Linked DNA regions of Homo sapiens: regions 1, 2, 4, 5 and 6 are each reported to be linked to region 3. Evidence: microRNA targets listed by miRTarBase, many of them from high-throughput screens and not tested one by one. Region 3 holds a microRNA gene; each other region holds the end of a gene's coding sequence.
Evidence for each region. The annotated mature microRNA hsa-miR-3175 reads CGGGGAGAGAACGCAGUGACGU and lies in region 3 at 2,643-2,664, shown strand. An mRNA with a match to its seed (bases 2 to 7 or 8) in the 3' UTR can be bound and repressed. Matches are read on the target gene's strand: a 7mer-m8 pairs with bases 2 to 8, a 7mer-A1 pairs with bases 2 to 7 and ends in A, and an 8mer does both.

Region 1: miRTarBase lists NAT9 as a target of hsa-miR-3175. Seed matches in the 3' UTR shown: 7mer-m8 at 832-838.
Region 2: the mRNA of PER3 is a reported target of hsa-miR-3175. Seed matches in the 3' UTR shown: 8mer at 2,119-2,126.
Region 4: miRTarBase lists AP1B1 as a target of hsa-miR-3175. Seed matches in the 3' UTR shown: 7mer-A1 at 1,394-1,400 and 7mer-A1 at 1,427-1,433.
Region 5: the mRNA of IGFBP4 is a reported target of hsa-miR-3175. Seed matches in the 3' UTR shown: 7mer-A1 at 3,399-3,405.
Region 6: the mRNA of ASPH is a reported target of hsa-miR-3175. The part of its 3' UTR that is shown has no 7-base or 8-base seed match.

What each region holds. Positions count from the first base shown.
Region 1 is chr17:74,767,276-74,772,348 of GRCh38, reverse strand. NAT9 (N-acetyltransferase 9) reads left to right here. Exons shown (of 7, transcript NM_015654.5): 5 at 72-131; 6 at 295-389; 7 at 491-1,820. The coding sequence ends at 625. NHERF1 (NHERF family PDZ scaffold protein 1) reads right to left here. Exons shown (of 6, transcript NM_004252.5): 5 at 4,113-4,202; 6 at 2,996-3,881. The coding sequence ends at 3,693. Among named protein-coding and RNA genes, the nearest start is that of NAT9, 6.5 kb to the left of the region's middle. RefSeq lists a silencer at 1,345-1,444.
Region 2 is chr1:7,841,870-7,846,942 of GRCh38, reverse strand. It overlaps PER3 (period circadian regulator 3), which reads right to left. Exons shown (of 22, transcript NM_001377275.1): 22 at 1,766-4,271. The coding sequence ends at 4,188. Among named protein-coding and RNA genes, the nearest start is that of UTS2, 8.7 kb to the left of the region's middle.
Region 3 is chr15:92,901,766-92,906,838 of GRCh38, forward strand. MIR3175 (microRNA 3175) reads left to right here and starts at 2,634; the gene lies at 2,634-2,710. All of the region lies in intron 2 of CHD2 (chromodomain helicase DNA binding protein 2), which reads left to right. RefSeq lists enhancers at 2,167-3,366, 2,228-2,407, 2,688-2,927 and a silencer at 2,478-2,527.
Region 4 is chr22:29,324,472-29,329,544 of GRCh38, reverse strand. AP1B1 (adaptor related protein complex 1 subunit beta 1) reads left to right here. Exons shown (of 23, transcript NM_001127.4): 23 at 650-1,865. The coding sequence ends at 724. Among named protein-coding and RNA genes, the nearest start is that of SNORD125, 6.2 kb to the left of the region's middle.
Region 5 is chr17:40,455,924-40,460,990 of GRCh38, reverse strand. It overlaps IGFBP4 (insulin like growth factor binding protein 4), which reads right to left. Exons shown (of 4, transcript NM_001552.3): 4 at 3,266-4,542. The coding sequence ends at 4,408. Among named protein-coding and RNA genes, the nearest start is that of IGFBP4, 15 kb to the right of the region's middle.
Region 6 is chr8:61,498,827-61,503,899 of GRCh38, reverse strand. ASPH (aspartate beta-hydroxylase) reads left to right here. Exons shown (of 25, transcript NM_004318.4): 25 at 391-3,344. The coding sequence ends at 541. It overlaps CLVS1 (clavesin 1), which reads right to left. Exons shown (of 6, transcript NM_173519.3): 6 at 2,271-4,445. The coding sequence ends at 4,358. Among named protein-coding and RNA genes, the nearest start is that of ASPH, 210 kb to the left of the region's middle.

The sequences.
Region 1 (5,073 bases), not on the chromosome of region 3:
ATGGTGTCTGCCAAGTGCCCGCACTGGAGCCTGGCACACGGCGTCAGCGCCGCTCCTGTTGTCTCTCCTAGAGCCCAGCTGCAGGGGTAAGGGCCTTGGCACTGAGGCCGTTCTCGCGATGCTGTCTTACGGTAAGAAAGTGTGAGCAGACAATGCGGGAAGTGGGCAGGCCCCAGGTGAACTTTGTTCAGGTGTGAGGGTTGGGGGCAGGTGAAGGTTCCTCCTCTGCAGCTTGGGACAGGAGGGTGGGGGCAGGCGCCTCCTTACTTGCCCCTGTCTCATCTCCTCTGCGAGGAGTGACCACGCTAGGTCTGACCAAGTTTGAGGCTAAAATTGGGCAAGGAAATGAACCAAGCATCCGGATGTTCCAGAAACTTCACTTTGAGCAGGTAAGGATGTCCTGGGGCAGAGTGGGGCTTAGACCTGGGTGGTGGGCCTGGTGGTGGTAATACTGTAACTTAGCAGGCTTTGTTCTCTCTGGCTCACGTAGGTGGCTACGAGCAGTGTTTTTCAGGAGGTGACCCTCAGACTGACAGTGAGTGAGTCCGAGCATCAGTGGCTTCTGGAGCAGACCAGCCACGTGGAAGAGAAGCCTTACAGAGATGGGTCGGCAGAGCCCTGCTGATGGCTGGGCCTTGTGGGCAGCCACTCTGTGTGAGCAGGGTGTTGGGCCCATACACTTCAAAGACCAGAGCCCTGCACTGGGAGAGTGCTCCTGGCCCAGGCTGGGAATCACCTTTCGAGGCCCTTCAGACTCTGGCGGGGCTTGCTGTGGCCTCCCTCCAGCTAGTGGTGTGGCTGAGCAGACTCCAGGGCCAGGGCCAGTTCCCTTCTCCCCTCCCGGCCAAACCCAGACCCAGACTCTAGGAAGCTGGAATGGAGGGCAGGGATCCATGGGAGATGTCGGGATGAAGGTGGGAGCTGGAGGTGCAGGGGGACCTGGAACATGGATGGGAGTGGACAGGCCTTTCTCCTTAGAGGCCAGAGGTGCTGCCCTGGCTGGGAGTGAAGCTCCAGGCACTACCAGCTTTCCTGATTTTCCCGTTTGGTCCATGTGAAGAGCTACCACGAGCCCCAGCCTCACAGTGTCCACTCAAGGGCAGCTTGGTCCTCTTGTCCTGCAGAGGCAGGCTGGTGTGACCCTGGGAACTTGACCCGGGAACAACAGGTGGTCCAGAGTGAGTGTGGCCTGGCCCCTCAACCTAGTGTCCGTCCTCCTCTCTCCTGGAGCCAGTCTTGAGTTTAAAGGCATTAGTGTTAGATACAGCTCCTTGTGGCTGGAAAACACCCCTCTGCTGATAAAGCTCAGGGGGCACTGAGGAAGCAGAGGCCCCTTGGGGGTGCCCTCCTGAAGAGAGCGTCAGGCCATCAGCTCTGTCCCTCTGGTGCTCCCACGTCTGTTCCTCACCCTCCATCTCTGGGAGCAGCTGCACCTGACTGGCCACGCGGGGGCAGTGGAGGCACAGGCTCAGGGTGGCCGGGCTACCTGGCACCCTATGGCTTACAAAGTAGAGTTGGCCCAGTTTCCTTCCACCTGAGGGGAGCACTCTGACTCCTAACAGTCTTCCTTGCCCTGCCATCATCTGGGGTGGCTGGCTGTCAAGAAAGGCCGGGCATGCTTTCTAAACACAGCCACAGGAGGCTTGTAGGGCATCTTCCAGGTGGGGAAACAGTCTTAGATAAGTAAGGTGACTTGCCTAAGGCCTCCCAGCACCCTTGATCTTGGAGTCTCACAGCAGACTGCATGTGAACAACTGGAACCGAAAACATGCCTCAGTATAAAACAAACATTATAAAACGAACGCGTTGCTTGCCGTGGCTCCCTTCGTACCATGTGTACCTCAGCAATGAGAGTTCCCTTGGGGCCACCCATTCCTTCCACCAGTCTTCAGGTTAATGAAGAGTCAAAGGTCCCCCAGGGCTTCCCCACCCAGCAGGTGAGATAGGGAGGGGCCCTCCACGACCCCTGTGGAGGGGAATCTGTCAGGGGCCAAAGGGTAGAAGCAAGGGTGGGGTGGGGGCAGGTCAGCTGAGCAGGGCACTGCTGTGGTAAGGGTTTTGGATGGTTCCTCTGACAAGGAGCAGGAGATGGCCAGATAGTGACTGGCCTGGGGGACACTGTCCACTCCCTGATTCCAGATCTACCTGCTTTACTCATTCCCCTCAGCCCAGGAGCCTATTTTCTGAGAGGTGTCCCTTTGGGTTGGGTGGAGACTAGCCTGGGGGCACCTTCCTCCTGAGCACCTGCCCGGAACCTCCCGGCTCTGCAGCCTAGCTCTTGCAAGCCACCTTCCTGGACCTCCAGATCAGGCTTCAGGTGCCAAAGGTATCAGGGACCTGGGTCTTTTGTTGGGGGCAGGGCACCTTGCCCTTGAACAGTCCCTTCCACCCCAGCTAGCCACACAGCATGTCCCCGGGCTCAGTGGACCGGTTTGTTTTCCCCTGGCACTGGACACTTGCCCTCCAATCAGGTCACAATGGCCAGATAAGATAGAGGATCTGGCACCAGCCCAGCCTGCCCCTGGGAATTCTGCACCCCACTGGCTATAGGCAGAAAGAGTAAAGCCAAGTCCTCACATTCCAAACCCAGCTCCATCCTGGGACACACTTTCCACGCTTCTGGAATTAAAGGAACCTCCCAGAGTCCTCTGAGAACGTTGGTCTGAGCTCCCACTTCCCCTTGTAAATATCCCCGTTAGACAAGGGGTCCCCAGCCCACAATCGGTGCTTGCAGCCCAGCACACAGGCACACTGACCACACCAAGCTGAATACCCGGCTGGGTGCATGCATCTTCCTTCCTACAGGACTGCAGCTAGGCCCTCTAGCTAAAGCTACCCAGGCTTGGGGTCACAGGGAGCCCTTGATGGCCCTCCCTCCAGTGTACCCCACCCTCCCAGCCAAAGACCACCTTGGCTTACCATTTCTCAATTTCTACCTATAAGGGGTCCAAGGCCAGAGGACAAAACTTCCAAGGAACACACGGAGGCTGAAGGGTTTGGAGGAACCAGCTGAATTTCTGAAAGTGTTTCCTTACAATGGTGGTACCTGGCTCAGGGATGGGCAGGGGTAGCCAAACCCTCCCCGTGCTGCCCAGTTCGCTGAGGGTGGGAGTAGGAACAAAAGTTTAAGGCTGAGGCCACTGCCATGCCCTGGATGTAACAACCAGGAAAATCATGTTAATCAAGGAAACAAAAATTCCTCTAGACTCTGCAATACTGCACTCTTAACAAAAATCAAATGAAAACAAGACGTGTCTGCCACAGGTCTCAGGGTAACAGATGCCCTGTCCACTGAGAGCGGCAGTTCTGCAGTCAGAGTTCTTTGATCAGCCCTGGACCCATTTATCACATGGGGGAGGAAGGGAGGGTGCCCTCTCGCCTGGTCCCATGATCCTGGCATGGTGCAGGTTCCAGCGATGTCCCAGGCAGGGTGGCAAAGGGACACCCGGTAGGATGAGGCACTCAGTGAGGAGGAGGGAGGCAGAGTCTCCTTTCTGACTGCGGGAGGACGGGAACACATTCACCTTCCCTAAAGTCAGGGAAGAACATAGTTCTCTAGAAAAATCATTTGTCAAGAAAGGGGATGTGGGTGCTGATTTGTACATTGATTCAGGGGAGTAATTGGGGAGAAGGAAAAAGGTGGGGTGGAATGCTGGCTCGGCCCTGCCAGTCACTGGGTGGCAGCAGGGCGCTCAGAGGTTGCTGAAGAGTTCGTTTTTCTTGCTCCAGTCCATCTGCGGGGCCCGTTTGCTGCTGCGTTTCTGGTGGGCCCTCTCTTTGGCCATGGCCAGGGAGATGTTGAAGTCTAGGATGGGGTCGGAGGAGGAGGTAGACGAGGGCGCTGTGGAGTCCTGTTTTGGGGGGCTGTCTTGGGAATTCAGCTGTAAAGAGAAGTGGGGGCAGGAAGTTGGGAGTCAGTCCCTCATTAGGCTCCCTGGTCCTCAGCCTTGGTGAGGTGGCTCCGTTGGGGCCGTGCCCAGGGAAGCCAGGTCACAAGAACAGAATGCGGCTCAGCATGTGACCTCAAAGGCAGGCTGGTGTGCCAGGAACAAGTGGGGCCTGGGAATCGGCTTCCTGTAACCCAGTTGCCACCCCCCGCATGGCTGGCCTACCTCCTCGCTGGTGTCACTGGAGGCGGATCTCACCAGGGCTGGCCTGGGGCTCTCCAAGGCTGCCTCTGCCAGGGCTTCACGACTGTTCTCCTGGCAGAGAGGAGAGGGTTGTGGGTTGTCAGAGGATGGGGTGAGGGGGTCCTGAGGAGGGAGGGAGCTCCTGGGGAAGTAGGGGCCTCAGACTGAGAAGAGGTAGCACTGATGCCCTGGCCACCCACCCCTGGTTCCCACCTCCTGAGCCTGCTGGGGCTCCTTTTTACATTCCTTTGGGGATCAGAGGGCAGGCTGGTTCTACTGCTCAGGCTGGAGGGATGGGATGGGAACAGACCATCATGGGATTAGCTGAACCGCTCCCTCTCCCTGGGCCACTCCAATGTGGCTTTTAGGTACTGGCTTGCCTTTTGGGCCAGTGACCAGGGAGGGGCTTCTTGGAATGTGGGGACACATGGGGGCATGGGGAGCCCATGTGGTGCTCCCTGAATCTCATGTGGTCCACCTGACTGTTTGCCAGGATTTGACCCCAGGAATCCTGAAACCCTAACCCTGAAGCAGCAAAGGAGGGCCTTGAAAGAAGAAGGTGGATGGAAAGTTCTAGATCCAAAGATGAGGTGAAAGAAGGTTGAGGGCTGGGTCCAAGGGCCCTCCCCCTTGCCAAGTACCCTGGCAGGAGCTCCTAGGGAAGGGGAACCTTTAAGCAGACCCTGCAGAGTTCCTGCTCTGTGGCCTGACTGAGTCGGCCTGTCCCAGAGCGAAGGCTTTGGCTGGGGCGTCAGCTTGGCACCCAGCCCCTTCCTGGGTTCCTCCATGGCTTCAGCTGGCGCCCAGCCCCACCATCTCTTCCCCGGGCCTCACCCCCTTTCCCTTCTGCCCAGGGAAGGGGGGAGGAGGGGCTTTGTTCTTCCAACCCAGACTAGAAGTAGCAGGGGCCCGGCTGCCCGTGGCCAGACACTGAAGCTCTGTT
Region 2 (5,073 bases), not on the chromosome of region 3:
TTTCTGAAGTTCGTGGGGGAAGTTCATGTGCTGAGATTCTTTCTCTTGGCTGACCAAAGTCCTGAACACTTGACAATTTTAATCTTTTAACATTGAAACTTGTATGATCTCAGCGTCTGTGAGCTCAAGGATCACAGTTTCTTACACCGGGAAAAACACCTTGATGTCTCTTGCAGAGAGAAGAAAGCTGAGGCAAGATTTAAGATTGTGGAAGAAAGAGCCTGGCTTACGAATTTTTAAAAACTATGTGTGTAAGTACTGACTTCTATTCCGTGAATACATCTGTATAAATGTGGTTTATGTATGTATAGAATATACAGTGTGAACTCCTGAGAGTTCTGTGTGGTTCTACACAGAACCATGTATAGGGGAGGCCTGGATGTTTATGAGAAACTTGTTTCTCTCATTGAGCTCTGACATCCCACCACATTCCAGAGGGGTCTGCAACAACCAAAGAGCAACACACGACTTGTGTCAATCTTGTCACTGACCATCACAAGTTTCCTAGAGAGTACAGGTCTCAGAGCGTTTACCCTAAAGACATCAAGAACTTGGCCGGGTGGGGTGGCTCAAGCCTGCAATCCCAGCACTTTGGGAGGCTGAGGCGGGTGGATCACGAGGTCAGGAGATCGAGACCATCCTGGCTAACATGGTGAAACCTCGTCTCTACTAAAAATACAAAAAAATTAGCCGGGCATGGTGGCGGGCTTGTAGTCCCAGCTACTCGGGAGGCTGAGGCAGGAGAATAGCGTGAACCCAGGAGGTGGAGCTTGCAGTGAGCGGAGATTGCACCACTGCCCTCCAGCCTGGCAACAGAGCGAGGCTCCGTCTCAAAAAAAAAAAAAAAAAAAAAAAGACATCAAGAACAAATCTAAGGGAGAGATGTTTTAAACTGGAATGAATGTGCAAGCTCAGAAACATGCTAACATTGAGGACAGCTATGATAACACTGTGGTGTGTCTCTCAGTGTTGAAATTAAACCAGTTCTCTGGAACACAATGTTGGCACCATAAAACTATTCCTGTATCAGAGATAACTTAAAAGTGGAATTCCACTGCAGAATTCTGAAGTCCCTACTCATTTTAGTGTATCAGGTGATGATTCATACAGATTGGGGCTTTGCATCAGGTTTCTAGGGTCAGATTCCTACTCCCAGTGCACACCAGCTGTGAGTCTCTGATCCAGTTACTTGACTCCCCCTGCCTCAGTTTACTTCTCTGTAAAATGACAATAACACAATGCTTATTTCACAGGGCAGTTGTGAGGATTAAATAATTCACATCAAGCACTTAGACCAGCACCTGTCAGAGTAGTATACACGCAAAGTATACTTAGCTATTTTTCTTCCTGCTCTTATTATGGTTTGTTATAGAAAAGAAAGGTGCAAATGGTCTGAAAGGTGTAAACTTTAAAAAGCTCTGTTGGCTTCAGGATCTTGTTCCCTATTTTAATTTCTAGATTTTGTTGCCACCAGTTACACAGTCAGATCTTGTACACAGGTTCACCCTAGCTCCCACAAGCTTAGCGTTCCAATAATGGAACACTAGGTGTAAAAGGGCTAAATAAGCCAATACATTTCAAAGTGCCTGCATCTTCATCCTCCACATAGTAGGTGCTCAGACACATTGGCCAAGGCAAACACAGAATGTGCCTGAGAAACACAAGGTTAACTAATATGAGGGCCCCTCAATAGATCATAAGAAGCACTTCTAAATGATACAGAATACACATTCAAAGATTTGTTGACACAGGGCAGGACAATTTCTCACGTTTTACATGTACAGAGTTTATTTGTTGTTTTTACTTAAAAAGATACCCAACTGAAATATTACTAATGATTAAAAACAAATTCAGAGTTAATTACAAATTCAGTTGAAACAAAATTTCAGTTTGGATTAAATTTACACTGTGAATTACAATGAAGTGTCACTCAATTGCAAAATGATTTCCATTCATACAGCATTTTGTTTTTCATAAATTTTGACCTCTGACCAAAGAAAACACAGCTTTTTGGGTAACATTCATGAAAACATTGAAGCCTATAATATAAATTTTTATTACCACTTTCAATAGTCATTAATATAAAAAGTTAACAAATTTAAACAACAAAGTTTAAGCTGGGGAGAGCCCCCTCGGGGGGCATCGGTCAAGCTGCTGAACCCCCTGCTCACCGCCAGCAGCAGGTGCAACCTGGGAGTGCGTGAATGCGTCCACCCACAGGAGGAGCGCTCCTCATGCTCTGACAGTTCTGCGACAAGCACCAGTTTCAAATCAAACCTAGTATAACAAGTACTCCATAAAACGTGTGCTAAGGCAAAGAAATAAGCACATTTGGATAATACAAATATCCAGAAACAATGGAAAAGAAAGGCTTCTATTAGAGAACAGAAGGCTTAGCATATATGAGTGCGCAATGATCCTGATAGCTACGGATACTGTTTTTATTTACAGTGGCAAAAACTTTATTACTACAGAAGGTCACTGACAGACAATCTACTGGCTGGTTAATTGTTTCAAATTTGATTCTCTATCAAGCAAAAATATCACACAACCTGATCAACACACACACAAACGCTTCAGAAATCACTTAACTATCAAGATGGAGCAGACTATGAGAGCTATTTATAAAACACGAATATTTGCATGGAACTGCTTAATATCAGAAAATTCCAAGAACTGTCAAAGGCAGCATTTGAAAATAGTTCTGACACCTTAAGATGGAATTACCATCCAGAAAGCCACTACTTTGAAAGGAGATCTGAGCTATGAGGATGGTCATCATGGATGAAAAGGTCGATTTTCCTAATCATTATCAGGACGCATTTACAAAAAGCTGTAAAACTTCAAAGGAGAAAAGTATTTTCCTTAAAAAACCATAAAAAACCAAAAACAAAAAAAGGAAAAAAAAATAAATTAGTTTGTTGCAAGTTATATAAAGACAACAGGTTACTGTAACCCTCATTTTCTTCTATTTGTTTTTTCTGATCTGCAGGGGTGTGAATTTCATCTATCATTCCAAGTTTAAGAAGGAATCAGGGACTTCTCTAAAAAGCACCAGAGAGTGAGCTGATTTATCAAGTAAACAATCACACTCACTTCTTAAAAGACACAACTACAAACGCCATAGAAAGCGGTGACTGATGGAGCCTGCAGGACCCTGTGGGCGAGGACAACTGGGCTCGCCTGGACGTTTTCTCTTTTGCAGTCCCCACAACACTGCCCTGTTCAAGGGCAAACAAAAGGCAGTGCCAGTCAGACCTGTGGTAGGGCTGGAGCGACCTCTTTTGTATAAATTGATTGGAAAGAAAGAGTTAACTGTTTTGGTAAGAATGAAAATTTAAACACAGAAGTATGTAAGAATGATACTAGCTTTTACATTACTTGTAAAACATTTTACAATCATTATTTTAAAAACAAAAATACTCAAAAGGGCAACAGCACTGGGTAAGAAGCTCTTTCATTTTAATATTACACATGCAAATGCTAACTGAAACTTACAAGAATAGGCCCATGGTAAGCGGATCGATTTTTAAGATAAGACTTTCAGAATTTCACTGGAAGGTGGGAAATCAATAGGAAAGGGATCTACAAGGATGAAGGCCAAAACTCAACCCCCAAAACCTGGTTATCCCAGATATGCTAATGGACAGTATGTGCTAATGTGTTGTGAGAAAACCGGAATGTTTCATCTTAATTATGGAGGGGAACGCCAGGTTGAATGAAGCCTGTATGAACGTACTACATTCATGGAAACCATTATGAAAAGTACACAACCTGTAGGTGGCATTTCTTCAAGCACTCTAAGGGGAAAATGACTTATGTAACAGAACAAAATAAATGAGGCTAAGGTTTGGGGCTCATTCTAGCTATACTTCTAATTATAATTTACTCTGGGTGACATCTGAAATAAAGATACACATACCTCTTTAGAGGCCATCCAATCTCTTTAGAAGACAATTCAACTACAAAAAGAGCCTAACTGGCCATTTTAATATATCAGGAACAAAGAGAAGTAAGATTCTGTATACAATGTCTGCTTCAAAAAGATTACGTGTATTAAAAAATCAAGAAGAAAAAATCTTAACATTCAATGATAACTTCATGGTCATTTAAAAGTCCAGGACTTAAAAAGGTCTGTCTGTGTAACACGTCTTGGAAAGGGTATGAAGGTTCATCCTCACAGTCACTCAACAGCTGTCTTCTACCAGAACCTGACCACAGGATGTGGCCGCACCATCAGCTGAATCTTCATTTTCACAAGTGACACAGGCCTCCAAAAAAGAACAAAGCAGGCGAGTTACTTGATGTCAATGTCACCTAAAGAGTTTTAAAACAGTAAAAGGCTGGTCACATGTTTCTAAATCCCCAACTTATTCATGTCTGAAAATATTTCATTATAGTTCATTCTTTATTATTATTATAACTATTTTTATTTTTTTTTTTGAGACAGAGTCTTGCGGTGTCACCCAGGCTGGAATGCAGTGGTGCGATCTCAGCTCACTGCAACCTCCGCCTCCCAGGTTCAAGCGATTCTCTTGCCTCAGCCTCCCAAGTAGCTGGGACCACAGGTGCCCACCACCGCGCCCAGCTAATTTTTGTTTTTTAGTAGAGATAGGGTTTCATTATGTTGGCCAGGCTGGTCTTGAACCCCTGACCTCGTGATCCGCCCACCTTGGCCTCCCAAACTGCTGAGATTACAGGTAGTAGACACCGCGCCCAGCCTCATTCTTTATTATTAAAAGGCAAATGACAAATTGTTTAAATACAGTCATGTGCCACATGACGTTTCGGTCAAAAACAGACTGCATATATAATGGTGGTCTTGTAAGATTATCCTACCACATTTTTATGGTACCTTTTCTATGTTTAGATACACAAGTAACACTGTGTTACAACGGCCTACAGTATTCAGGACAGTAACAGCTGTACAGGTTTGTAGCCTAGGATCAAAAGGCTGTCCCATAGGGCCTAGGAGTGATTGTAGCAAGCTACTCCACTGAGGTTTGTATGAGTACACTCTAGGACGCTTGCACAAAACATCCCCATTACTAAGTGGTGAAAGGACTGTGCTTT
Region 3 (5,073 bases):
ATCAGAAAGTTATATGAATGAAAAAATGTACATTTAAAAACAAAATCACTTAAAGGACCCTTTGACTGATGCCTCTCAGTTTATATTTTTATGTGACTTTATATTTCTTTTGATACACTTGACATTTTAGGAAATTTTGATGTGATTTATCAAAACCTTTACTTGATGGTTAGAGTTCCTGCATTTATGAAATCAAATCTGTAATAACAGAAATCCTGGAATACTCTTAATATATACTTCTATTTTGTGTTTGTTACTGTGATTAATATTTGCAGTTGTATATTTTACATTTAAATTATTTTAAGGTTTGCATTTGTATGCTTAAGACATTGATTTCCTGTTGGTAGATGTATTTTATCCTCACAATTTAGATGTAGCTGCTTTAAATTTATTGATGTATTTCGACAGAGTCGTCTGGAATGCTTTATCTTCTGAAGCTTAAAAATGTACTGTTTGTGCAAATCATGATCTGTTTCACATTCCTTGGAGTACCTTGTTAGTGATGAAGTAATAAAGCCTCTAAGATGTTTTTGTTGTATGACCTCTGTATATTAATTTTTAAAAGTACATATGAATGCATTTTTTGATGTGTTCTTTATGCATTTTCATATTATAAATTTTAAATCATGCAGTTTAACAAGGATGTGATTCATTATGTGGTTTTCCTTCCCAATTTTTACTTTTCTAATTTTTATAAATAATACACTTTTCTATTAGGCTAGTGAATTTGAAAGTTTTGAACATGATGTGTTACTAATATGCTGAATTCTATTTATTTTATTTGACTGAAAGCATATTGAGCCTTGCTTTAGAAAATAAGTTACCAAATTTTTTTGCATTGAGTTGTCACCCAGTTTGTAGTGCTGTCTTAATTGAATTGCCCATGTAAATTACTAGATTAAATTGAGGACAGAAAAGTTTTTTACTCATCCTAAGCTGTTTTTTTCTGGAAAGTAATGACAATTTGAAGAAATGAGAACCTCCAGATATATTTGGCAAATTATTAAAGATTCAGCACTAAAATTGTTGCTCCCTTGAGTGTATCATTTGCATAGGTCTCACATGGGTTTTGGCTCTCTTATGCAAGGTTTGTGGTTAACATCATTGATCAGACTGTGCTTTCTAATTCTAAAAAATTGAGCAGTGTTGGTATTCTTTCAGTATTTTTACTCTCACCTGGAAAACTACCTGGAAGTTGTCAGGCATTTGCTTACTGGTAGTGGAGGTTACAGCTGTACATGAAGCATGTACTGACTGTACTTTTAAATTGGTTTGTCAAGTATACTTTGAATCATATACCTGATGGATGTCCAAAAATATTTAAGACTCTTTGAAAAGAAGATAGTTACTTTTAAATTAGTTACCCTAAATTTCATATCTTAATACATGTACATAATTATGACATCACTTCCTTTTAAAATGTGCAGCTGTAGAATGTTAGTGGTGTTTTAATGTGGTAGATTAATATTACTTCTACTGAGCTGAACTGTCCCTGTAATTAGTACTTGGTTCCTTCTGCCATCAGAGTTTTTATTGCCCAAAGTATAGTGTTTAGGGAATACTACGAAAATCACCTTTGCAGCCTGAGCCACAGAAGAGGAAATGAGTTTGCAGGTCAAGTAAACTTTGGTCTGAGAATTACTTTAGTATCTGGAAAGAATGAGTGCAAGTTTAGGTAAATCTGGTAATACCCTGTTTTTGGAAATAGTGCAGTAGTTAATAGTGGTTATATAAGTTTGTATTTTAATTTGAAGTTAATGCTAAAGTCTGTTATACTTTATCACGATTTTTGAAAATTAAAAACTTTAAAAAACGCGATTTTAAAAACATTTGATTGATATTTGTAAAATTTCTAAGTATTTAAAACAAAGTTCTAATGATGGACATACGAGAAGTATACCATACTTTTTATCTGAATAATTTGCAGCTTGGGGATAACTTAAGTAACATCAAAGAATGAAAACGGGACTGTGTGCACACAAAGAGTTCAGTGTGTTCTCCACGGCACCACGTTAGCAATTTATCTTAAGAATTGAACGAGTTTATTAAATTTATCTCCAAATCGTCTGCCTTTGAGCCAGATTTATTTTTATAACCTGAGGTGCGGGTAAATCCTACAATTTTCAGGGGCGCTTTACCAGATATTCTAAAAGGCTGGGGATGATTAGAAATGGCATAATGCAGTTACTTGTGTACTAGAACAGGCAGTTTAACTGGCAGCCATTTTATGACGCTGATAATACATTAAAAAACGGGATTTTGGAGAAGACTGAATCTAAACTAATAGAAATCTGAAATACCAAAGCCTATTTCCTTCCCCCTCTCTGCTCTTCTGGGGAACTCTGGTGCCGACATAAAAGGCAGTTCGATAGGGCACGCAGCAGCTCTTTGAGCCCCTGGCATCTTGATGCAGGTCCAGCTCAGTCACAAAATGGCTGTTCCTTTGTGCCGCAGCGCTGACAGACATACTGCATTGCACTGTGTACTCGCCAAACAGCAGGAAGTTGCCGTGCCGAGTTCAAAGGCCGGCCGGCGCCGGCGCGGGGTGCTGATTGGCTGTGCGCGCGCCTGGTAACAGCAGGGTCAACGGCGGCGCCTTCGGCAGCCTCCGCCCCGTGACGTCAGACGGCTCCCCTGGGGGGCGGGGAGAGAACGCAGTGACGTCTGGCCGCGTGCGCATGTCGGGCGCTTTCTCCTCCCCCTACCCAGGGAGCCGCACGCCGAGGGGAAAAGGAAGGGAACTCTAGTTGGGACTTTCCGGTGGGCGGCTTCTTTCCTGGACGCGTTTGCTCCTGGCAGTCTTGTCCGCCCTTGCCTGTAGCGGTCCGCACCCTGTAGTGTGTTCTTTTGCCCATTTCCGGGAATGGTTTATCCTCTTTGAGAAGCGGCTGCTTTTGGAGAAAAAGTGCAGGCACTATTTATAAATTTTAAAGGCACTATTTGGAAATCTTAAAATAGAAAATTTGCCCAGTTTTACATTTTCCCTTTTCATACCTTAGCGTCCCTTCTCCCCGCCCCCGTTCAGTGTGAAGAGATGAGTGGGTTTAATTTTGTTACAATTGACCAAAACGTTTGAGTGTCAGAGGCGGATACTTTTATTTTAGTGAAAACCTCTTGACGGGTGTTAACAGCTGTTTAATACATGGCTCATAAACAAAGGGAAGATTATTTGAACTTGTCCCCATGCGTTTTTACTTGGTACCGTACATTTTCTCAGTTGGCATTTGATGGAGAAAAACTCAGGTCAGTATGTGCTAAGTACTATATATTTAAGATTCACAGTGGGATAGTTTAGTAGAAAATAGAAAATTTCACGTTCAATAACATTAAAAAGTGGCAGAATACAGCGTTAGGCAACCATTACTATGTAAGTAAATGTCAGAAAACTACTCTTTTAAGTGTTAATAGCACTTGCTAATGCAGGGTGACTGACAGCTTGGCTGATAGTGGGGTCACTTGGCCAAATCTTCGCAATTATCTTCCCTAGGCCTCCATTTCGGGAATTCTGAGTCCCGGTAAACGGTTGGGTTTATGCTCACTGATTTGCCTTGTTTGGAAACCTTTACAAGGATTTCTGGTTAAAACTTCATCGTTCAGCAACGATGTCTTAATAATTAAATTACACATACTGAATTTAAGCAAGCAAGAAATTCAGTGGATTTATCTACTGTGGACAAAGTTTTTTTCCTGCCATACTAGAGTTTTTTTAGCAGTTGGAGTAGGCTGTCCTGTAGTTAGCCATAGTTTAGAGTTATTTTAGTAAAGTGTGTTACTTCAAAGGAGATGTTGACCCTTCAGTGCAGGTGATATTTGCTTGGGCGTATGTCAAGTTTCTGAATACAGTCTGTGAAAGTTAGAATTCACTATGATAGTGAGTTTTGTAGGTTCTCATAATCTAGGTTCTTTGGGAAGAATTATTTGGATAGTTTGTGAAAACTAGCTGAAATTGCTTTTTCTGTTACAGAGAAGTGTTCATCAAATAATTTGTACCTGATTTTAAAATTATATGCTCAAATGTATATTGCGTATAAAATGCTAACAGAGAATTAAGTGTTTATAGAACTTGATGAACGTTTAACTGTAGCTTCCAACTTAAAGTATACCTGCCACAAGAACGAAAGTAATAATCTCACCTCCCTTTTTGTGTAGAGACTGAATTCTAATTAGTTGTGTTAATAGTATTTGCTGAATACCTTTCAATTCCTAAAACTGGGGTCAAAGTAGTCAACATTGCAGTTAATTATTTTTGAAGAGGATATGAACTATTCTGTTATTTAAGATATTTTAACCTAAATACCATTATGAGTTAAAATGCATACCATGATATAACAATTTACCTATTAACTGTTGACAATCTTGCAGCCAATTAAGTTTTTTATAGAACCAGTGTTCTTAGGTATGTTTGTTGAGCCTTCTACTTTTTTTCCCTTTGATGTGGGGAATAGCATCAAGCAGCAAGAAAAGAGTGTTGATCGATTTCTCTCTCTTTCTCTCTCTCTCTCTGTATCCTTGCCGTTTAAAATATGCACTTTCCAACTAGTATTTGGCCGTTAGGGAGTTAGTATCTTTGTAAAGATTAAGTCAGCAGAGGAAGGTGGGCAAATAATATTTTTGATAAAGACTTTTGGTTGTGACAGTTGTAGCAAGTTATTGCTTGAGGAGTGAATCTGGAAGTTTATTTGAATTTTAACTAAAACTCACAGATTTTATCATTAGTTTACTCTCCCTTACCCCCAAATAAAACAACTGACAGTTATGAGAGACCTCCTGAGACCACCTGGTATTTCCAAACTCCTATCATTTCTCCCATAAAATTTGATACACTAAGTTTGTTTCTGGTATAAAAATTGAGTGACTGCTCTGTGTCAGCCATTAAATTTTTTCTTGCTATGAGCCATCTTTTTTTTTTTTTTTTTTTTAAGATCCTTTAGTTTTTAGCTGCTTCTTGGTAACCTTAGAACTTTGCTTCCTTGAAGAACTTGGCTTTCTTGATATGGTGTCACTTGAACAAAGAAACTTAAAAAAAAATTCCTCTAAGAGTATTTTGTGTACAGGTGAAAGTAACTTTGTGGC
Region 4 (5,073 bases), not on the chromosome of region 3:
ACATTCACAGTGTGCACAGAGTCCTTCCTAGGAGACCTGGAGGGCCCGTGGGCTGCTGCTGACCTGCGGAACTCCATTGTTCCCACTTCCTAACTGCACCCTGCAGAACCAGTGCTTTAGAGTGGATGGGTGGGGGCTCCTCTCTCCTCTGCCTGTGATCTCAAGCTCAGGCCCCAGAGCGGAGGCAAAGTCTCTACCGTGCCTGCTTCCTACGCAGGAAACCAGGAATGAGCCCAGCACCCCTCCAGGCTCCCTCCCAGCCCTCCGCACCCCCTCGGGATTTTCTGTCAGGCTTCAGTCCTGAGGACCCCAGACCTTCAGGGACTCTGGGGGGCCGGGCAGCCCTCAGGGTGGGGGCCGGGCACTCCCTGGCAGCCTCCGGCTCGTGACTCACACTGCTCGCCAGCAGGGCTCTGGTGACTGGGCTGACAGCAGGTGTGTGGGCTGCAAGTATATTTGGTCCACACCCGGCTGGCTGCGACAGCCGCCCCCTCCGCTTTACCTCACATCTGTGCCAGGCGCAGCTGCCGCCAGGCTGTGTGCACTCCACGCTGTCCCATTGGTTCCTGCTCTCTTCCCCACCCCTTTCCTTCCTGAGAGGAACCCCAGGGATGAGCGCTCTTTCCCCCGACCCCTCTCTCCCCTGCAGCTGTCCCTGAAGTGTCGAGCACCAGAGGTGTCCCAGCACGTGTACCAGGCCTACGAGACCATCCTCAAGAACTGAGACCCCGGCCAGCGCCCACCCCAGCCTTCTGCCCGCCCCATCGAGGAGGCCCCTCGGGGGCAGCACATCTTCCTCCTCGCAGGAGGGACCAGGCGGGGCTCCAGGCCACTCAGTGGGCTCCCTGGTCCTGATGGCAGAACCCACCCGATCCCTGGGGTAGGGCACCACCCCCTCCTGGGGTGAGAGCGCAGTGCACTCCCGTGCTCTGGGACACCCCTGCTCCTGTGGCTGTGATGTGGGGTTAAGTGAGGTGGGGACCAAAGGAAACAGAGCCAGAGCAGCCACAGAAGCTGTGCCTGAAGGGTGAGTGTGGAGCTTGCCCCTCCGGCTCACAGCCCCGGCAGCCCCTGGCTCCTTGGTCTCTCCGGTTGGTGTTAAAGGGCCCTCCACTGCCACCTCTCATGGGATGGACCCTGCCAACCTGGCCTGGGTGTGCAGGGAGGGGTTCCCCTTGGTACCAGGAGAGCTGCTCACTTAGGGCCTGGGGCTCAAGGAGCTGTAGGTGCCGGCAGAGGGGCAGAGCTAGGCTGGGAGGAGCCCAGGGCCTGCACCACCCACTTGCAACCACCAGGCTGGTGCCCTGCAGCTGTGCCAGTTGGGCCACAGCCTCCCGAGTGCTGACCCACATGGTCAAGACCAGGCAGAAGCTCCCAGAGCCCCTGTCTCGGGCTCCCCACCGACTGGCAGCTGCACTATCCCCAACTCCCCACTTCTGCCCCAAGGGTGGTCACTGCCTGTGATACATTCCTCAGTGTCGCCTCTGAGCCCAGGCCTCCTGCCACAAAGACTGGGCCGAGAGATGGGGCTGGGTAAGCGGGTGCGCCTCCTGTTTGGGTTTCTTCGGGGTTTCTCTGTAGTGTCTGCTGCCCTCCTCCTGGCCTCCCAGGTTTCAGTTGTGTCTGACAGAGCATTAGGTTTTCCTGTTACTGCTGTGTAATAATAAAGAAAGATTCGGCTTTTGGCAATCACGGACACTTTTTTCCCCTCCACCGAATGTCAGGATTGAAAGCTGCCTCCGAGTGGTTGGGGATGGTTTTCTGACCCTACGGTAACTAGATCTAATATATATCATCAGAAAATATATATTGTATGTTTACTCTTATTTTCAGAAAGAGAAAATGAATAAAAATGATGACATCAAGTGTGTCCCCAGCCAGTGTGTCAGGCCCGAGGCTCTTCTGGGCAGGAGTCCCGGGCTGCAGGGACCCCAGGGTCAAAGGCTCCAGTGGTATGTGCGGCAGCAGCCCCTCCCGTGGCACTCTGAGGACAGCGCCTTCCCTCCATCCTATCCTTGGCAAACTGACTGCTGCGGCCTGCTGCTGTCCCTGACCCCTCTCCTGCCATTGATCCCACCTCCCCCAGAGCTGACAATGCCTCGCCTTGTGATGCTGGCCAGAAGGCTGGGCTCCCCTTGTGGTTTTCCCCAGCTCCCTGCCATCTGGGAGGCTCCAGGGGCCGTGGGAGATCCCCTGATCAGGGGCAGCCGTGGGAGAGGGGGTGGGCGTGTGGACCAGGCCAGCCGCCACCGAGGACACCTTGTGTGGCCCCAGTCCTGGCACTGGCCTGGCTCCCAGTGAGGGTGGCCAGACCCTGGGCAGGGCTTCATCGGCTGAGCTGCCTCCTGGCTGGTGGGCCTCAGCCTGCTTCTGAGGGAGGAGCAGCCCAGGTGTCCCTCAGCCTGTTTCAGCTCCAGCCGCTCCCTCGTGTTCTGTCTGCACTTAGTCCCCCCACATGCTGCCCACCTCACACACACCGCTGCCTTCCTGGCTGCTGGAAGCTGGGTGAGACAGCCTGCCCTCTTGCAGGGCATCACAGGGGCACCTGGCCCTCCACTGCCCCACCTCTGACCTCTGTGGTGTCACTGTGCTGCCCTGGGGACCCCAGGGTCAAGGGCTCGAGCTGTGTGCCCAGCTGTGGCCCCTCCAAAGAGTCCAGAACCAACCAAGGCCCTTGACTGTGCAACCCTGGTTCTTGCCTCGCCTGAGAGTCTCTGCCCAAATGCATCTGGAGTCCCTGCCCTGCCATGGAACTAGAGGTTGGTGAGCCCTTAATGAGAGGGACTCTCACCCTGCCGTGTCGTCTGCCTCCCCTGAGCCCAATACCTTCGCACTCTGCCTGGGAAGCAGCTGCACGGGCCACCACGCCCATGGCCTGCCAGCTCAGCCATTCAGGGAGCTTGGCACTTCACCTCCCCACCCCTCCATTGCAAGGTCGGAAGAGTGCAAGTGTGGGATCGCTGTCCCCACCGGAGGCCCAGGACAAGCCACCCGGGTGAGGAGAGCTGGCAAGAAAGGAGGACCATCCCTAGACACCTTGTGTTTGAATGAGTCTGCTCAAGCCTCAGGTGATTGTGAGCGGTGCCTCACTACAGTTGGGCCCCTCTTTCACCCCCACAGTGCTCAGCATAAGGCGACCCAGCATATACTGGACTAAGCATATAATGCGGCTTAGTTTACATGCAGGGAAACTGAGGCAGGGAGGGCCTTCATGCTCCCAGTCCCCCACACTACTGCATCAGGAGAATAGACACACAGGATGCTACTTTGGGCCCCTGCCTTTAGGAAGAGTACCTCAGGGCATAGCCAGTCTGTGCCCTTCAGCTTCCCTGTCCCTCCCTCACCTCTGAGGGTCATCACAGGCCGCCTCCCTCCTGCTCATGTGGCACTTCCTGGTCCTGACACGCTCAGGCCTCCCCGTCTCGCCTCTTGGAGGCCTTGGCATCCCGCAGCTTGGGGAACTTCCCAGACTTTTCTTGGGAAGATTCCCAAGTGTCTTGAACCTTCCCAGCCAATCAGGAAATCCAACAACAGCAACCAGTTATTTCTGGAGGGTCCAACACATACCCAAGGGCCGATGGGCTCCCCTGTGCACCAGACACTGCCAAGGCTGTTGCGGGACCTGGTTTTACGTTGTTTAATTTTCAGCTAGTGGTTTGCGTTCATTTTTGTGGAGCAAGTAATTCAGGACCATGGTGAGGTCAGCCAGCCAGAGAATAAAGTTCTCCCTCCCACCCCATCCTCAGTCCTTAATTTTCCTCCCTTGAAGGCAGACATTGTCACTAGATTTTGATTTTCCTCCAGGGATATTCTGCACATGTGTATAAGCAAATCCATATAGAGTTTTACTAAACGAATGATGGCCTACCTAGACACTGCTAGCACATCGCTTCTCTGACCTGACAGTCGTTTCTGGAGCTCTTTCCCTATCAGTAGGAGCAGACCGCCTCAGGCTTCCTTGTGTGAATGGGCCACCGTTAGCCAGTCCCTGCTGCGGGGCATTCAGGCTGTTTCTGCACCCTAAGCAATGCTGCAGCGAATACTTCCCACATACACCCTCCTGCCTGGGCAGGGATGTAGCTGTAGGATCTAGCCCCGGAACTGCTGAACCAGAGGGTATACCCAAGATGCATTTTCTATTTTAGTTCTTGTTTTGAAAAGGTAACACATTCACATGGCTCAAAATCTAAAGACAAGACAGATGTAAAAACCTACCCCTTTCCCTCATTTTCCTCCCCAAAGGAAACCACGTAATTATCCAAAGAGACTTGGCAGTGCCTAATTGGATTTTTTTCCCTTCTTGTGTGGAAATAGTAGCACGGAATACATGTTGGGCTTATATCGCAGAGGTTTTTCCATTATTAGCCCATTACAGAGAGTGTCCTCATGCCTTTTTTTTATTTTTTCATTTTTAAATTTTTATTTCTTTTTTGAGATGGAGTCTCACTCTGACGCCCAGGCTGGCGTTCAGTGGTATGATCTCAGCTCACTGCAACCTCTGCCTCCCAGGCTGGCGTTCAATGGTATGATCTCAGCTCACTGCAACCTCTGCCTCCCAGGCTCAAGTGTTCCTCCTGCCTTAGCCTCCCAAGTAGCTGGGATTACAGGCGCCCGCCACCACGCTTGGCTAATTTTTGTATTTTTAGTAGAGACAGATTTTCGCCATGTTGGCCAGGCTGGTCTTGAACTCCTGACCTCAGGTGATCTGCCCGCCTCTGCCTCCTAAAGTTCTGGGATTACAGACGTGAGCCACTGCACCCAGCTGCCTTTTTTTTTTTTTTTTTTTTTTTTTTTTTGAGACAGAGCCTTGCTCTGTCGCCCAGGCTGGAGTGCAGTGGTGTAATCTCAGCTCACTGCAACCTCCGCCTCCCAGACCCAAGTGATTCTCCTGCCTCAGCCTCCCAAGTAGCCGGGATTACAGGAGCACACCACCATACCCGGCTAATTATTTTTTGTATTTTTATTAGAGATGGGGTTTCACCATGTTGGCTAGGCTGGTCTTGAACTCCTGACCTCAGGTGATCCGCCCTCCTTGGCCTCCCAAATTGTTGGGATTACAGGCGTAAGCCATCG
Region 5 (5,067 bases), not on the chromosome of region 3:
GGGTGGTCTTCAGAAAAAGGGTTCTGACCCCAATTTCAGAATTTAGAGCTGGCAAGGGGACCAAGAGAAGGAGGGGACCCAGCCAGCCATGGAAGCCACTAATCTCCATCTTTCCCTGGGGGACTGCACTGCCGCCTCCACTGAAAGCAATTTGTCATGCCCTGAATTAAGTGACTCCAACAAGGGTTTAATTTCAGCTTAATGGCTCTGTTTTTATGTGTAATTAAATACTATAGCATGGCAAAAATATGTTGTTTGCACTTTAGAGACTGTGTAAGGGCCTAGGAAGCCAATCCCACCGAGTTGCTGCTCCCAGGCTCCACCAGCGCCTCCCCCAGTTTGGCTGGAATTGTCCAGGTAGAAGGGAAGGGGGCTGGGGACCTAAGGAAAAGAGGTGGGGGGTGGGGGTGAGGGGTGGGGTGGTCCTGGTGGCGCCTGCTCACTCGGTAGAGCATGTTTCTAATTATCTGCAGCTACTCCCTCCACTTACACTCCCTGACCCCACCCTCCCCAACCCTGGAGCTTCAGATACAAGAGGGGACAGGTCACTCTGGAAGTGAGGATCTAATTAGACCCTTGGTTGGCTGCAGCAGTGTCTGCTCCTCCATGGGTGTGCCCAGAAGTCTGCCCCACGGTCCTGACCCAACATCCCAGAGGCCAGCCTGCCTCCCAGCTCCATTCCACCACATCACCTTGACTTTCTCTTTCGAGGTCAGAGAGGCCTGGAATACAGGGGGAATCTCTGTCAGGTAACACTTCAGGCCATTTACCACACAGCCACATAACAGCCCCCCACACTGGGAAAGAGGACCGAGCAGGCATCCCAAATCCTGCATGCCTCGTAACATTCCTGGAGCAGCTTGGTGGCAGAATGTGGCTCAGGGTACAGCGGGGTTAGGACAACCAGCCTTTTCCTGGAAAGAGGTGGGAGATGGCAGTGGCTGGAACTTCAGGGCCTGAAGAGCAAGCAGGGCCCAGAGGCTTGGCCAGCTCTCCAGAGATTCCCCAACCTGAATCCAAGGCTGGAATCAGTTCAAGTCTCCATTTTTCCTCCCTACTCCCACCCCACCTTCTTGCCAGTGGAAAACCCAGCCCCCAACCCCCAGCCAACATCAGGGCTTGATCTCTATTAGTGAGCTGGGAAATGGAAACCAAATGCTTGATGTAGATCAGCTAGGGGTTGTTGGCAGGCGGGATGTCCCATCCCCTGCTCCAAGTCAGTGGGAGGGAATGACATGTCTCCAGGAGGCAGGACAGAGCACTCAAGGACTTCAGTTCTCAAGTCCATCCAGGTTTAGTGGTGCCACCAGTACCTCCCTCCCACATCTCCCAGAGGTGCTGACACCCCTGTGGCAACTAGAGAGACCATTTGGGTATTCCCACCGTTTCAAGGGTGGGAGGGCCTAGCTGCAAACAAGAAGCTGCTTTTATTTGCTTTTTGGTACTTAGGACCTGGCTCCAGGATCCTGTGGGCATGAAGCCTGGACAGGGCAGTGTTTCTGTGGGATGTGAAAGTCCTCTCCCCAAAGCACATGTTCATTCTCTAGTGTCAGACATCTCCCCACAAACCCTGAGGTGGGATCACCTAATGAGCGAGAGTCCAGTCATCCACAGCCAGGAGAGACAGGCGTGCTCCGTGAATGTCTCACTCCCTCTCTCCTCACATCGCACACGTGTTCACATGCCACATATACACACCACACAAATGCACACCACACAAATGCACACGCCACATATACACACCACACAAATGCACACGCCACATATACACACCACACAAATGCACACCACACAAATGCACACACCACATATACACACCACACAAATGGCACACCTTCCCTTCACACATCAAACAGGCATGCACACCCCCAAAAAGCCCATACACTCACGTTTCAGGTGTCACTGCGTCATACTCACATGCATGCACACACACATACTCCACAAATGCACGTATGTCACGAAGTTACACCCAGGCCATGCACACAGCTACTTCCAAGCCAATTTGGCTTTTTTGGGAGGCCCATGAAAGAAAAAGGACCTCCTACCACCACTGCCAAGGGTGCAAGCCTAGAGCATCGGGAAGGGGACTAGAGACAAGGGGGTTGAAAAAGATGCCTTAGGGAAAGAGATACTTTCCCTAAACTTGAAACCTAAAACTTAATCTTCAGCGTGCACCACCTCCCATCCCCACAGGCCTTGGCCTGGGCTCCAGAAGGAGGGGACTCTGTGAAGAGTGGCTGGGGCTGAGGAAGCAACCCTCAACACCACTTTGTTCTTTATCTCCTGCTGCTGGCAGCCGCCGTGGTGCCTCAGGGAGACCAGATGGCTGCAGGACTTTGCTGCTGGGGCAGAGCTAGAGAGACAGAACTGCAGACCCAGCCTCAAGATGCAGACGGGACAGGTGCCAACAAAGTTGGGGCCCAGTGAAATCAGAAGCCTGGAAGCGCCTCTGGAGCTGGGGAGGGGGCTGAGAATCCAGGACACAGCTAGATAGGAGGGAGCCCGCGCAGCGGGCGGCAGGCTCAATGCAGCGTCTCCAGACTGCCTGCAACCTCCTGGAAAAAGGCCCCCACCGAGAGATCAGCTTCTGCTCCCGGACCCTCCACCCCCTGCCACACACATGCGTGCACACACACACACAAGGCACAGAGGTGTGGGAGGGGAGGGGCATTTGGAGGATGGCCAAGAGTCCAGGCATACCATGTGAGCACAATCTCTGAAGCTGTGGCTGGCACTGAGTCTACAGCAAAGTCAACCCCTCCCAACCTCAGAATCCAATCTCAGCACAATGCCCGAGTCAGAGATCTCGGCAGTCAGAGCTGTGGAATGTGCTGAAGCATCTACCCCCTTTCCTCAAATGCAGGGCAGTGTCCCTGCCCCTCCCCAACAAATTAATAAATCAAATCCAGATGCAAGCCCAGTCCGCCCGATGCCCTAGGAAATGCCCCAGCCCCACATGCCAGCTGATCCCAGAGACAGCTCTGCCCCCACAGGGCTGTCCTTGGTCATGCCCCCCTTTCAGGAGCCATTGTTTGCCCACCAGGAGTCTAAGTAAAGACAGCGCAGACTTTGAAGCCAAGGAGTTCCCTAGGAAACTTCCGTTGCAGGGAAGAGGAAGGTGGATTGGCCGTCCTTCTGCAGTCCCTTACCATACAGACAGGTCTGGGGACCACACAATACTCACCTCCCAAAATCTGTCCCCGTCTCTCCACCCCTGGTGCATCCCTGTGTCTAACTGAGAATAAATCAACCAAACACAATCATCTGGACATTTTTTGGTTTTGTTCTGTTTTGTTAAAAAAAAGAAAAAGAAGAAAAGACATCATGGCCAACTGGTAGGTTCCTAAGTCTCCTTCCATCCAGTCAAGCCAGAAGATGCCCAGGGGAGTAGGGAGGTGTGGGGAGGGAGGTGTAGGGGAAGGAGATATGGAGAGGGAGGCAGAGCTACAGGGAGCGAGCCACTGGAAGGATAGGTTCATCCCGGTGACTTCATGGCTGTGACCACAAATGGGGTAGGGAACAGGACCCAGGAAGCCCCTCATCCCCTAGCACGTGGGTCTTCTCCATTAGGCACATTCAGTCCACTCTTGCATTCTTTCTTCCCACCCTGACTGCTCAGAGAAATGTACCCCACCTCCCTAGCCCTCTGTGCTTCAAGTCTTCCTTTGACCCCCTTCGCTCTCCCACAGCAGGGCTCTCAGCTGCCAGCCAACCAAGCAGATGGTGCAACAACCAGACCTAAAGGAAGGACCTGGGGAAGAAGAGAAAGGGAGCCTGGCAAGTCTGAGCTTTGGGAGTGGGTCTGGACCTCGTGACCATTACTCCATCTGCTACCCCACGCTTCCTTAGGCTCCCACCCTCTGGCTAGCTTGAGAGGAAGGACGATGGTCAAGGTACATGTCTCTTCTCCTCTGACTCTGGGAATGAGATTTTTCTACTCCCACAGGCTTGAACTCTCCTTATAGGAGTGTCTCCACATGCCAAAATCAGAGGAAGTCAGAATAAAACCTCCCAAGGCTGAAAACTAGAGCTGGCACGTAGTACATGGTCAGTAAATGTTTTTAGGTGGCTGGATGAGTGAAGGAATGAGTGAGTGAGTGAATCCAGGATCGATCTGGAAACACACCAGGGCTCAGACCTCTTGGGCTAAGTGCCAGTCTCAGTCCTCTTGGGCTGTGTAACACCAAAGAGAACACCCCAGGCTCTGGCTTACCCCAAGGGCACACCCATGCTCACAAACACACACACACGCACGCACACGCACACGTGCACACGCGCATTTGAGGGAAACTTCTGGGCCGCAGGCAGAGACAGGACTCAGACTCAGACTCCACTCTGGGTCAGCTCTGCAGCCTCCAGAGCACAGGAGTAGCAGGGGACGCTGAGTCCCTGGCCTGCTGGCAGGCCTCACTCTCGAAAGCTGTCAGCCAGCTGGTGGCAGTCCAGCTCCCCCTTTGGCTCCAGGCCCCCCGGAAGCTTCACCCCCGTCTTCCGGTCCACACACCAGCACTTGCCACGCTGCCCATCCAGAGCTGGGTGACACTGCCAAGAGAAGGACATGAGGGGTCAGTTCCGACGCAGGAAAAGAGACCCCAAGTGACCCACCCCAATCCCAGCCCAGCCCAGCCCCCAAGTCAGACGGTCGCTGCTTCAAGATGGCCTCTGAGGGTGGTGACTCTTTTTTGAGCATGGGTCTTCTGAGCTCACTGGAGCAGGGAGAACATGGTCAAGAAGGAAAGGTCCAGAGAGTTCTGGAAGGCAGGACCTTAAGAAAGCCCTCGGGTTTAAAGGCACAGCTGGATTTGAAAGGCTGGGTTCAGGTTGGAGATGTTTTGGGTACATATTCTGATTGGGTTGGGACTTTAAGAATGGGATTATAGTTATGAGGTGGATCCAAGCTGGGATTAAGGTAGGACCAGGGTAAGAGTTGCAGTTGAATGAGGAAATATGACTAAAAGTTGAGCTGGATGAGTTGGGTGAGGGTTAAAGCCCAGGTAAAAACACAATTGGGATAAAGACAGAGGTCAAGGTCAGAATAACTAAAGTTAAGCTAAATTTTGGGTCAAA
Region 6 (5,073 bases), not on the chromosome of region 3:
AAGACAATTGATTGGAAGTGTCTTGAGAGGCATAGAGATGCCTGAGACCCAGTCACTGCCCATATGTCTAAACCAGAATAATTGCAAGACATGTAATAATATACAGAATAATTGCAAGGCATGTAATGAGACCAATATGTCTTCATCACAAATCCTCTGTTGTTTGTACATCTCCAGCACTGAGCAATGAAAACTGATGTTCATAGCAAGATTTCTGAAATTCTTTCCTAATCATCAAGGGAAGAATAAACTTGGGCTTGATGTTCTAGTTATTTGGTTATGTCCCAAAGGTTGTTACCAAAGGTAGTTCTCGCACATGGACAGGAATCGATCCTCAGACATCTGAACCACACAAAACTATATTCAGGAATCCTTGTCTTTCTGCTGCAGGACCTGGGAGGAAGGCAAGGTGCTCATCTTTGATGACTCCTTTGAGCACGAGGTATGGCAGGATGCCTCATCTTTCCGGCTGATATTCATCGTGGATGTGTGGCATCCGGAACTGACACCACAGCAGAGACGCAGCCTTCCAGCAATTTAGCATGAATTCATGCAAGCTTGGGAAACTCTGGAGAGAGGCTGCCTTTCTGGTTCCATCTCCTTGGGTGTGAGGATAGAATTTCGAACACCAAGAGTCAATTCCCTTGACTTGCAGCCCGAGTAATTCAAAGCCTCCTCCTAGGGTCAGAAGACACTAAAGGGAATATTTGCCTCGCTGCAATTCATTTAGGAAACACCCTGCTGTGTGTCATCTCATGACAGCACTGGTCTTCTGCCAGTATTTAAGGTGAACATTTGATAGCTTCTACCTTACCAGCCAAAGATATTTTTTCCACATAGAATAGGTCTAATTCAATGTATAATGAGAACATATGTAGAAACTGTGAATGGATTGCTTTAGTTTGTAATTTTTCTATGCAGTTATATTTTTCTAGTGTAGCTAGACTATTTTGTCATCATGTACCACTACATTTTTGTTTATTTTAATGACAAGCTGTATAAATGCTTTACTTCTAGCTATTTAATGGTAGCATTACTGGGGAACTCAGACTTCCCTCTTTTAATTCTTCTTAGTAAAAGATACTCATGAAAAAAGCAGTTTTATTTTCCTAACAAAAAAGAAAGAGCTCATTATGTCAGTGTCTATGAACTGTACCCATCCCAACTCTCAAATCGTTTGGTTTTTTTTATCTTGATTGAGATCCTCTTCTCACTATGCTAGTGGTGGAGATATTGACAAAATCCTATTTCTTTCAAAGAGGAACTTTTCACACCGAAAAAAGAGCATGGAATTATTTTATATTGTTATAAAAATCCCAGATGCAAATTTTTTTAATGCCAATTATTAGAGCTTCTGGGGAAAAAGTATAGTTCACGGAAATAAAACTATGTTCTTTCAGGGTTGGGTGGATAGGTGGCTGCTAGGGTGTCTGGCTCCTGGCGGCTTTGCCATCCATGAGGCAAGGGCTGGGAACACAGTGTCTTTGCCTATGGTAGATCCATGTGAATGTCAGGAAGCCAGCTCTTCAGTCTTGGAGATGATTTCTGCTACAATTCTGTAGAAAGATTAAGGATGGCAGAGTAAAAGGTTACCAAGAATGCCAGGATGTTTTTCTTGGGCGTAGGAGGTCCAGATTACTTTCCTTTTTGATGAAAGAGTTTGGAAGACTGTCCCATCTCTCTGGCTTGAGAAATCTCTGCCATTTTAAACATCACTGTGAAATAGCAATTATTATCATCTGTATTTAGTTTTAACATTACCCACAACATAGAAATAATAGGTAAAAATCGTCTTGCCTACTCATTCCAAAGATGATCAAGTCATTAATCTAGCAAAGTATTCATGTATCAGATTTTGTATATTTTGAATCAAAGCTAACTAGGAATGTTAGATATAAGAATGTAATGATATTCATGCACTGAATTCTAAGCCAATATGAACAAAAATGCTGCATGAATGGCACATATAGGTCACCAAAGTTCATTCACAGGTAGAAAAAACTTGTGCTTTCTTTTCCATCTAAAAACAAAAGGAGACTTTCTTTATCTCATTTAAAGAACAGCTCTTTGAAATTGAAATTGACCCTTTTTGCTTGACCTTAAGGAGATTAGCTTCCAGTAGATGAGTTTGCAAAATACTTTTCCTGTTCTTTTGTTTTGCTGGTATTGAAAACATCCCACTAAATCAGATGAAGAGGCATGGGAGGAAAAATATCCAAATTAATTACTAAAATCGAGAAGAGAAGGCAAACTCTTGAAAAGTAAAAAGGTGTTTGTGACCTTCAGTATTTATTGAACAGAGGAAATAACTGACAAGGGCAATACAATTCAATGTTCATGTAGTAACATTCATGTCACTTGTTGAATTTGGTTCTCATATGTATATTGCATACACATAAATTCAAACTATAAGTCGTCATTTTTGAGCCATCATCTTACATTCATGTAATGAAATTATGGAAGAGAGTAAAAACTAGCTCTTAACTTAGTAAATATAATATGGTATTTAAAATCAGGTCACTACAGTAAGGTTCTAAGTATTGCCAATTGAAAAGCTAGAAATGGTATTACTGTTGCAAAGTGTTGTCAATAATTGACTCCAATAGCATTGTAAATACTTGTATCCCACAACTATTTTAAACCCAAGCAATAAAATGGATTTTCTAATTCACTTCAATTCTTTATTTCTCTTACCTATCTATGTCTTGGTACATAAGAAAAGTGTTTCCATCACTGCATTGGTAGAATTATTTCAGTGTTATTATTTTTGTGATTTCGTATGTCTACACAAAAATGAATTAGTTTAATTTATATTGTGATACAGTTGTTTGAGAAATATTTTTAATTCTGTTTCAACTTTATTTCTCCAAGTGTATAATATAAAAATTACTTCTGTTATTGTTCTCTACCAATAGGGGAAAAAATTAAAACATTAGATCCATTGAGAAAGAGATGATGTAATAAATAATTAAGATTAGTAATAATATTATCAGGGGTGATTATGACCAGTTGAATAATCTCTTTCCCTTGAATTATTTAGCTAACAAATTAACTCTCCCAAATATTTAAAATAATGTAAAATCATATTTTACTGCCCATTATTAACTAAAATATTTTTGTTTGACTTTGAGCACCAACTGGTAATACTAATAAATACCCATGTCATGCAGATGGCTGGGCGAATAAGAGATGTCTAAAAATATGCACTGGTCTTGGAAAACATGGCACAAGTAAGGATATCATATATGATGTCTGTTTATTTTATGTCTGATTTCTTTTGAATGAGTAGTTGGGGACTCCATTTCTAAGGAGACTAGGTAAATAAAATGACCTTTGACATTTCATCCTGCATTTCTAGTCTTCTCTTACTTCAGTACTTGCATATTTAGCCATCCATATGGGTCATGCTCCATGATTGAATATTTACCCTCTCAGCAACAACCATGGTCTTTCTCCACATCTTTAATGGTTGCAGGAGGGTTGTGGGGGCAAGGGTAAATGGTTTGATAGCACTTTTCTTTGCTGTAGTGACCCAGTTGAGGCAACTGGAATGGATTCATTAATCACTGACATGTGATTTTCATGAGACATCTCCTCTGCAGACACATGCTGCACTAATGGGCTTTTGAGCTGCCTGTGGTAACTCACATTGCTCAGATGAAATAATCGTATTTCACGTCCATGTGTCTTCCTTTAACGTCAGCTCATGACAGTCAGCTAGTGACCTGACAAGAGATGTGACATCAAAATAATTTTTTGCAGGATATCATCAAAATAAGCAAACTTTGCAAATACCCAGACCTATGAGAACATGCTCTTAGGCTGAACAATTCGATGCTGGTGATGAGGTCAAAGGAAATAATTCAGTAAGAATGGAAATTACTGGAGATACTATTGTCTCAGGGCTTTGTACTACATGAAACTTGACAGTGGTGTCTGTACAGTTTAACTCTGATACATTTACTTGGAAATGCACTTAATTTTCAAAAACTGGAGAGGGTCCCTGTGTGATACCTCAGAAAAATTCTTGTCCTAATGCAGTGTGTCCATCAAATTTAGTCTTTATTTTTTCAATTTACTACAATAAATATGAAAGGAGGGAGAATCTTTTTTACATAAATGCCTTGCATCATCCTCCAGTCCCCTCACTGGGGGAAAAAAAAAGCATCTCTCAAGTCTTTGTCCAACTTTGGCTGCTCAGACCGATGGCTGGTGACAGTCACTGCAGGGGTTCAGGAGTGGAGGACCTTGTGTCAAGCAGAACACACGTGTCTGCATGGGTCAGTTGTGCATGTGCTTCCTGGGTGGCTGATACCACTGAAGGCCAGTGTGCAGGAGCATTGGGGTGACTCAGGGTTCAGTCCAGAGCCAGGAGTGGCTGGGTGTTCTCATTCTCTCCCTTCTCCTCATGTTTCAGGGTCCCAGCTTCTACCACAGACTGAGATCTAACAAGAGGGGAGGGAAAAAGACAGAATTACAAACAATTCATGGTGACAATTTTGGAACCTTTGAAGACATCCGGATTTTATATTTCTCTTTTTAATAGACACTCAAAAATTAACTGGGTGCAGTGGCACATGCCAGTAGTCCCAGCTATTCAGGAGGCTGAGGTGGGAGGATCGCTTGAGTCCAGGAGTTTGAGGCTGCAGTGAGCCATATTGTGCCACTGCACTCCAGCCTGGGTGACAGAGGTAGACCCTGTCTCCAAAATAAAAATAAGAAATAAAGACACTCAAAATAACTACATAATATATTCCCTTTCGTATCTCTGTTTTTCTTACTTCTTTTGCTTGCTAAACCACATTTTTACGGCAAAAAAGCATTTTGGAGTACTGGAATAATCTTTGCAGTGATCTCTTCTCTTGGTAAAAGGGACATATGTATTCTAGCCACACTCTGCCCCAGCATCTAAATATTCTGTGTACCTTCAGATATATAAAGTTTGTTGAATTTTTAATGTTTTAGTGTACCTTTTAAACCTTTTGTCTCTCAGAGTCATTGGAAACTACCATGCATGATGTTAAGACCATGAATCAGATGGTAAAGTTAGACTCTGTCCCTTACTGGCTGGGA